Linked DNA regions of Homo sapiens. The protein of the gene in region 1 purifies or fractionates together with the protein of each later gene. This does not show direct contact. Each region holds a gene or a part of one and is shown on either strand. Other genes may lie near its edges.

Region 1 (4,331 bases):
TCTGTTTTGTACCTATGCCCCAAGCAGTGCCTGTGAGTTGAGACTGAGAGTGAGAACCAGTGTGGGAGGAGAGAAGAAGGAAATGGGGTTTCCATGATGTGGCCCATAAGACCTTCTGCATCCACAGCCAAGATATACATCATTACCATCGCAGAGCTGCGGGAAATCCCAGAGTAGCTAACATTTCTCTGTTCATGAACTGGACAAACTCCACCTCAACCCAGGTGGATTGTCCCCCATTTGACATACCCCAATCTGCAACAAATTCTCACATTCCTTCATAGAACTGTCTTCTAGCTCCTAACCCTCTTCCATGTCACTCAGGTTGGAAGATCATCAGAACAAGAATTTCCCTGAGTATAATATTTGAGCATTCTGAGACTTCTATTGTCTAAGGAGCAGTTCAATCTGTTCGGGGAAAAGGAGAGATGTTACTTGGTAAATAACAGAAAGAAAAAATGCCCATTAGTCAATAGAACTCCTATTCCCCTCCCTTTTCATACTCTTTCTCCCACAAATAAGCGTAGCTGAATAAATACTGAAAGAAGACCATCTAAGACCTTTTTCCTCTCCTTCCCTTTCTTCCTTACTTCCACTTTTAGGATATGAATTTTAAGAAAGGCTTGTATAATTGCTACAGGAAATATTAAAGTTGTGGATTTGGAAAAAAAATTAATCGCTTGTTCTCAATGTAGGGAGACATCAAATATCTTCATTTGAATGGGCAATAAAGACATCAAGAATAAGAAACAGCAGTTTATCTGAGCTGATTTATAGATGGCTTCATCAAGAGAAAGTAGGGAGAATGAGCAGATTTCTCAACCATTGTGTTAGCTCTGTGAATTCGTATCTTTAATTCTTCAGTTTCATTTCCTTGGTAATAAGCTCTGTCCTGCATATATTCATTTTTCTTCTTTCCTGCTTTTCTTTTTCAATATCTACACACTCTCTTCTCCTCGTCCCTCTACTTATTTGACTGAACTCTTTTCTCAATCTGAAATCTGTGTTTAGGCCATTCTGCATCAGGCCTGGGTGTTGTAAGGCACACAGTACTGTGGGTACTGGAATATCCACTTTGGTCTTGTGCCTTAGGTGGAAAAGAGAACAGTTGTCAGTTTGCAGGTGGAAATAAACGTGTGATCTTTTCCCCTTACTGTAGCCCAGAAGGAATCTTGTAAGTCACAGCATTGGCTGAGACGAGACCTCCATACTAGAATCCAAATCAAACATTGAACTGAAAATGACGGTTGGGGCTTCATGTTCACTACATAATGCTGAATCGCAGGGTTCCATCTTAATTTTCAAAAAACCCAAGAGTTATGAGAACATGTTGGTAGCGTGGTTGTAAATGGTTTCTAAACACCCTGGGGTGCATGCGAATAACTCAGATGTTAAATTGCTTTCTATCCCTTCTGCTATATCTTCAGCTTGTTATTTCTGATAATAGTCCAAGTAGAGACAGACAATAAACCTGACTTCCCTTCTTCCTACTAACACTTCATGCTGCAAGACAATATTGTGAGATCTTTATCTCTAATCACTCAGCTGAACAACTATTGAGTCTGATACTTGGACACACAAGTTGAAGGTTCCTACCTCCAACCTCCCATCCTAGGTACTGCCCTGCACCATCTAGAAAGTCTCCTTACCTCTCTACTCAGGACCATTTGTGGTATACAGAGTCACTAGTACTTCCCTGGATATCTCCTGTAAATGCTCACAGTCTTGTCAAATCACTTCTGTGGAACTCTCCTTTCTTGTCCTTGCCCTGCCCTGGGGACCCACCCTTTTTCTTCCACCCACTGGTGAGCTTAGTGGCACAGAAGGGGCATGGGAAAACCCCAGGGTGGAGGATCTTTCCACTCCTCCATCTACCCCAAAACTCATGTAGGTGGTGATATGCTCTGCCTGCTACCACTGGGGCAAGGGGTGTTGGAGGAGCATGAAGCCCCCAATATTATGTAGGTCACTGAGAAGGCAACACATCCATCTATCTATCTTTGAGATGTGAACCCTGAAATCTGGTCCTGATGGTGGCTATCCATCTATCTTGAGCCTCCCGGTGAATTTGACCTTACCTCACTCAAGTGTGTACATCCTCCCTCGTAGCTGACCTCAATATATCTTGCTGCAGTTTATCTCAACAAGTTTCTTCTACAGCTTCTGAAGAAAGAGGTCATACCCACAGAAAGCAAAGTTGATTTCAGCCAGGTACTCTCAATGGTTGGAGCTATGGACACTAGAGTAGGGCCTGAAATGAAACCGGGAAACTTCTTCCTTGAGAACTTTTCGATGTTATAATCAGATGGAAATTGCAGCAACAATGAGTTCAGCAAGACACAGAGAAGAACTTTGCAGGTGAGAAAGGTGAAAAAAAATTCCTAAAATGTTATTCAAGTCATCAAAGAGACCCAAGTTTTGAGAATCTAGAAAGATTACCTCTCTGATAATAAAGAGAAAACAAACAAACGAAAGCAAAAGGGCACCCAGCATCGTTCTCCTAGGCATAATGATGGATGCTTTTAAGGTTGAAGTAAGAGTGGTGGGAGATTTTCTCTTGATTTTCCCTTGACTTGACAGCCTGATTTTTCTCTGACATGTTTCCTTCTTTCTCCTAGCATCACCCTAAATCAGTACAGCCTTGAAACTGAGATAAAGGCTGTGCTTACCTGTCTGCTGGTAGAAAGCTGAGTTTGAGGCAAAGCAGTTGTCGAAGCTGGGCCGAGGCCTTCACAGGTGTGGGCACAGAGGTGAAGCAAGTGAGAAAGTATCATGTTGTAGATTATGCCTTTCTCCCTGAACTCATTCAACTGCTGTTGCCTGCTCAAAAGGGGAAGCGGAAATGAGAACACACCACACACACACACATCCACACATGTAGATGCAGTCCCCGCCTCCTGGCCCAGCCACATCCTTTGCTCCGGCTCAGGAGACTGAGCGAAGGACAAACCATCCGTAGACACGGTGCTCACAACTAGGAAGACCTTCCTGCCCCAGAGCTGCCTCTGTCTTTCCAGAAAAACAGGAGATCTTTTCCTATTAAGGCAAAGGTACAGTCCATTTAAAGAGGTGTGTGCAGGAGTCTTCCTACCATATAACTAGAATTCCACTGCTGCAGATAAATCCTTCTGTCCTCAGGAGAGCTGTCTGAAAATGGGAAAGCTCTCTCTCATAAATGATCTGGCGTTTATCTCAGAGAAGAAGTTTCCAGTCGTATCACACACTTGAGAGGGCTCTGAGCCAGTCGCTCTGTGTTGATAACTTTCATACTCTGGTAAATTCCCCCGAAGCTTGTTTTTGAATACTGACTACTTTTTTTTTCTGTTAGTTTCTTAACTTTGTTTTATGTTCAAACCACTTCAAAGTTTTTGTTTTTGTAGTAAATGACTGCTTTCCCCAACGTTTTCAAAGCTGAACTTTTAAAATCGGTTACACCCTGAAGATGTCTTCAGTTTATTGGTTTTCAGTTTGGAAAAGGCTTGTTGAACTCTAAAAGGTTTCTCCCAGGCCTCAATCACTTTCACCCACCGGGAGCATCCAGCACTGCTAACTATCCCTCCTCGCTTCTCCAGTATCTCTGAACACTCTTCTCCGTAGGATGCTGCTGCATTTTGGATATCTTCTTTCTGTCTCTCTCCTGATTCTACTGTTTCCTTCTTTAAATCATTTATTTATGAATGTATATCACAATATTTATTCTACAAGGCACTCCTCTAATGTGTTAATTGTGACTGATTTTCACATGTTCATTACCTTCTTTCTGATTTTTTGGCTATAGGTATAGTTAGATTTTTTTTTTACCATGTTTCTAAATTCCATTTCCAATCATCAATGGGACAACTCCATTGAGTATCCATAGTATAGCTATAATATGGTAGAAATAATCCTAAATAAAATTCTTGCTTGGCAAATTAAGTTCTCAAAACATTATTTTCTTCAAGTATAATGTGAGGAAAATAACAATTCTCTCTGTTTCTCACTCAACCCTTCTCCCACGCTATTCCTTTTACGTAGGCATGAAAATATCTAACATATTTTCTCAGGACATAGTAGATGCTAAATATGTGCTTCTCTGAGAATTAGCTTCACAGTCAACAAGTAAAATGCTAAATCCAACACGCCCTAATTCTCTTTATTTACTATTCTTTTCCGTACAAATTAACTATAAAAGCTGAACTAATGGAAACTTAACAACTCTTTTAAATCCTAAGTTTCTAGAATTCAATGTTTTCCTTAACAGTTGTTTTCCAATATGTTTGGGAAATGGAGAATATAACTTCGGTAGGGAGTTTGGAAATATGTGAGAGAGATTTAATTTTCAAAGAAATGGG
Region 2 (3,817 bases), on another chromosome or scaffold:
GGTCGGACCACAGGTGTGCGCCCCACACCCGACTTTTTTTTTTTTTCTTTTTTGTAGAGACTGGATCTTCCAGTATTGCCTAGGCTGGTCTCAAACTCCTGGGCTCAAGTGATTCTCCCACCTCAGCTCTCGAGTACTGGGATTATAGGTGTGAGCTGCCATGCCCAGCAACTTTTTCAGTTTGAATAAATCGTAAATTACATTTACCTTGACTTTCAATAGAGAATATATAAGAATGTAAATTTATGGGAAAATGAATCACATTTTAATTTCTGGGGTCTTTGATTTCATAATTTCATTTAAAGTTCATTTTGAAGCTCATTTTCCCATATTTTTATATTCATGTTTAAGTTAAAATGTAGTAAAACATAACTACATGTTCTTGTTTCAAATTGGGAACTCAATTTGGAAGAGATTCCTTTTAGTCTGAGATTTTAAGATGTTTTAGCAGCAATCTTTTTTTTTTTTTCTTTCCTCGCTCTTGTTGCCCAGGCTGGGGTGCAATGAGGCGATCTCAACTCACCGCAACCTACGCCTCCCAGGTTCAAGTGATTCTCCTGCCTCAGCCTCTCGAGTAGCTAGGATTACAGGCATGCGCCACCTCACCCAGCTAATTTTGTATTTTTAGTAGATAGAGGGTTTCTCCATGTTAGTCAGGCTGGTCTTGAACTCCCGACCTCAGGTCATCCACCCGCCTCGGCCTCCCAAAGTGCTAGGATTACAGGCATGAGCCACCGTGCCCAGCCTTAGCAGCAGTCTTGTAAGATGGTAACTTTTTCACAGTAGCAGCTTATGAAACTTATGATGTGAAATAACTAAACAGACCCCTTCATATTAAGCTTTGCAACCTTTTTAAAAGAAATCCATGCATCATAACTTATTTTCAAAACATCAACTTTATGATATCTATCATATATATTTGCCTAGGTTTTTTGTCTTTTGGTTTTTGGGTTTTTTTTTTTTTATACTTTAAGTTTTAGGGTACATGTGCACAATGTATTTGGGTTTTTTTTTGAGACAGAGTCTCACTCTGTCATCCAGGCTGGAGTGCAGTGGCATGATCTCGGCTCACTGTGGCCTCTGTCTCCCAGGTTCAATAAATTCTCCTGCCTCAGCTTCCCAAGTAGCTGCATTACAGGCATGTACCACCATGCCTGGCTAATTTTTGTTTGTTTGCTTTTTGAGATGGAGTTTCGCTCCTGTTGCCCAGGCTGGAGTGCAATGGCGCGATCTCAGCTCACCACAACCTCCACTTCCTGGGTTCAAGCGATTCTCCTGCCTCAGCCTCCCGAGTAGCTGGGATTACAGGCATGCGCCACCATGTCTGGCTCATTTTGTGTTTTTATAGAGACAGGGTTTGTCCATGTTGGTCAGGCTGGTCTCGAACTCCTGACCTCAGGTGATCTGCCCACCTCAGCCTCCCAAAGTGCTAGGATACAGGCATGAGCCACCGTGCCTGGCTAATTTTTGTATTTTTAGTAGAGATGGGATTTCACCATATTGGCCAGGCTCGTCTCGAACTCCTGACCTCAAGTGATTCCCCCTTCTGCCTCCCAAAGTGCTGGGATTACAGGTGTGAGCCACCGCGCCTGGCCATGTTTTTTTTGTTTTTAAACTAGAAGCTCCAAAAGTTTTTAGTGAAGGCTAAGCTGTCATTGAATTATCCTAGAAATAATGTTTTTTAAATCACTTTATGAGCTGGGCGCTGTGGCTTATGCCTGTAATCCCATGGGAGACCAAGATGGGTGGATCACTTAAGGTCAGGATTTTGAGACCAGCCTGGCCAACATAGTGAAACCCCATCTGTACTAAAAATACAAAAAAATATCTGGGCGTGATGGCAGGCGCCTGTAATCCCAGCTACTCGGGAGGCTGAGGCAGGAGAATCTCTTGAACCCAGGAGGCGGAGGTTGCAGTGAGCTGAGATCACCCATTGCACTCCAGCCTGAGCAACAAGAGCGAAATTCTGTCTAAAAAAAAAAAAAAAATCACTTTATAAATATAGCTGTGGGGCTACTTTCATGCATATGGACTCAAAGGAAGCGCTCCCTAAACTGCATATTCATAAAAGTTAAAAGTAGAATGCTGTTCCTAATAAAAGTCTTTTTTTATAGAAGATTAATTTTTTAATTAATTTTAGTGTTGTGCTAAGGACCATGATGTTTTTCATTTCCTTAAAATTATAAGGTATTTTTTCAGTCTTTGAAGTTATTCATTAAAATTGAGAAAAGAACCCGTAAGCAGTATACAGATCAGAGCATCTTAAAATTTGGTAATTTTTTTTTTTTTGAGACCGAGTTTCACTATTGTTGCCCAGGCTGGAGTGCAGTGGCGCGATCTCGGCTCACCGCAACCTCTGCCTCCCGGGTTCAAGTGTTTCTCCTGCTTCAGCCTCCCAAGTAGCTGGGATTACAGGCATGCGCCACCACGCCCGGCTAATTTTGTATTTTTTTTTTTTTTGTAGTAGAGATGGTGTTTCTCCATGTTGGTCAGGCTGGTCTTGAACTCCTGACCTCAGGTGATCTGCCCACCTCAGCCTCCCAAGTGCTGGGATTACAGGCATGAGCCACTGCGCCCAGCCAGTTATTTTTATATGTTAGCCATGTCTTGATTTATGTTAAAGATCTGGGATAAGGCAGACAGTTTCCTAAAGGAACATATTACCTAGATTACATGAGAAGGAAGTGAGGAGCCAGGAAAAGATAGGCTGTTCTTGGGTTGGTAAGGACCAGTGGCCAGGTGGGTGTTGGCAGAGGAAAGACAGGCAAGGTGGGTGTGAAGCTTGGAAATGGATCTGTAGCTACAGGATGTTGGAAACAGAAAACCAGCTCTCACGCCTGATGGAATGTCTTGAGAGCTGGGTACCAGGAAGTGAAAACACTGCCCAATGAAATGAACAAGAGATGAATGAATTGCCTTGTTAGGCACCTTCCACCATTCCCTCTCTGCTACATCCCTGATGGCCCTCTTGGTGTTTGTTAACCATGGTAACTGCCTGTAGAATTGTTTTTAGTTGTTGGCTCTCTGAGTTGTAGCAAAGTAGAATTATGAGTTCATCCAATTCATATACACAGTCAATTAGCCTCATATCTTTTTTTTTTTTTGTCTTGAGGCCGGGTCTCACTCTGTCACCCAGACTGGAGTCCAGTGACATAAACAAGGCTTACTGCAGCCTCAACCTTTGGGCTTACGTGATCCTCCTGCCGCAGCCTCCCAAGTAGCTGGGAGTACAGGCATGTGCTACCACGCCTGAATAATTTTTGAAATTTTTGTAGAGATAGGGTCTCATTGTGTCATCCAGGCTGGTCTTGAACTCTTGGGCTCAAGCAATCCTCTTGCCTCGGCCTCACAATGTGCTGGGATTATAGGTGTGAAGCACCACACCCAGCCTAGCCTCATCTCTTCTATGGCCACAGTGCCAGCCAGCAGTCCATCAAACTTTGCCAGTGGCCACGGGGGTACTGGCAAAGAAGTATAGATGGATCCCTGTAACTTAATCACTGCTACTAGAAAAAAAAAAACTGAGATCAGAAGAGTGGGTCAGTTGTATTACCCTCAGCTAGAAGAAATAGCAGAAGAATAAGTGGATGAAGCATCTTGATATCATGACTAATTAGGTTTGCACATTATCTTCTGTTGAATTTTTTTTTTTTTTTTGAGACAGAGTCTCACTCTGTTGCCCAGGCTGGAGCGCAGTGGTGCAATCTCGGCTCACTGCAAGCTCCGCCTCCCGGGTTCATGCCATTCTCCTGCCTCAGCCTCCCAAGTAGCTGGGACTACAGGCACCTGCCACCGCTCCCGGCTAATTTTTTGTATT

Evidence for each region.
Region 2: the proteins of TESPA1 (region 1) and KCMF1 purify together in Homo sapiens (affinity purification with mass spectrometry; 2 studies listed by BioGRID and IntAct, with this or other methods). This does not show direct contact.

What each region holds. Positions count from the first base shown.
Region 1 is NC_000012.12:54,981,916-54,986,246, forward strand, and holds the start of TESPA1 (protein TESPA1), read right to left. Parts: upstream 2,848-4,331; 5' UTR 2,670-2,847; intron 2,252-2,669; exon of another isoform or gene 1-2,251. UniProt on the Homo sapiens protein: Required for the development and maturation of T-cells, its function being essential for the late stages of thymocyte development.
Region 2 is NC_000002.12:84,977,551-84,981,367, forward strand, and holds part of KCMF1 (E3 ubiquitin-protein ligase KCMF1), read left to right. Parts: intron 1-3,817. UniProt on the Homo sapiens protein: E3 ubiquitin-protein ligase which accepts ubiquitin from an E2 ubiquitin-conjugating enzyme and then transfers it to targeted substrates, promoting their degradation by the proteasome.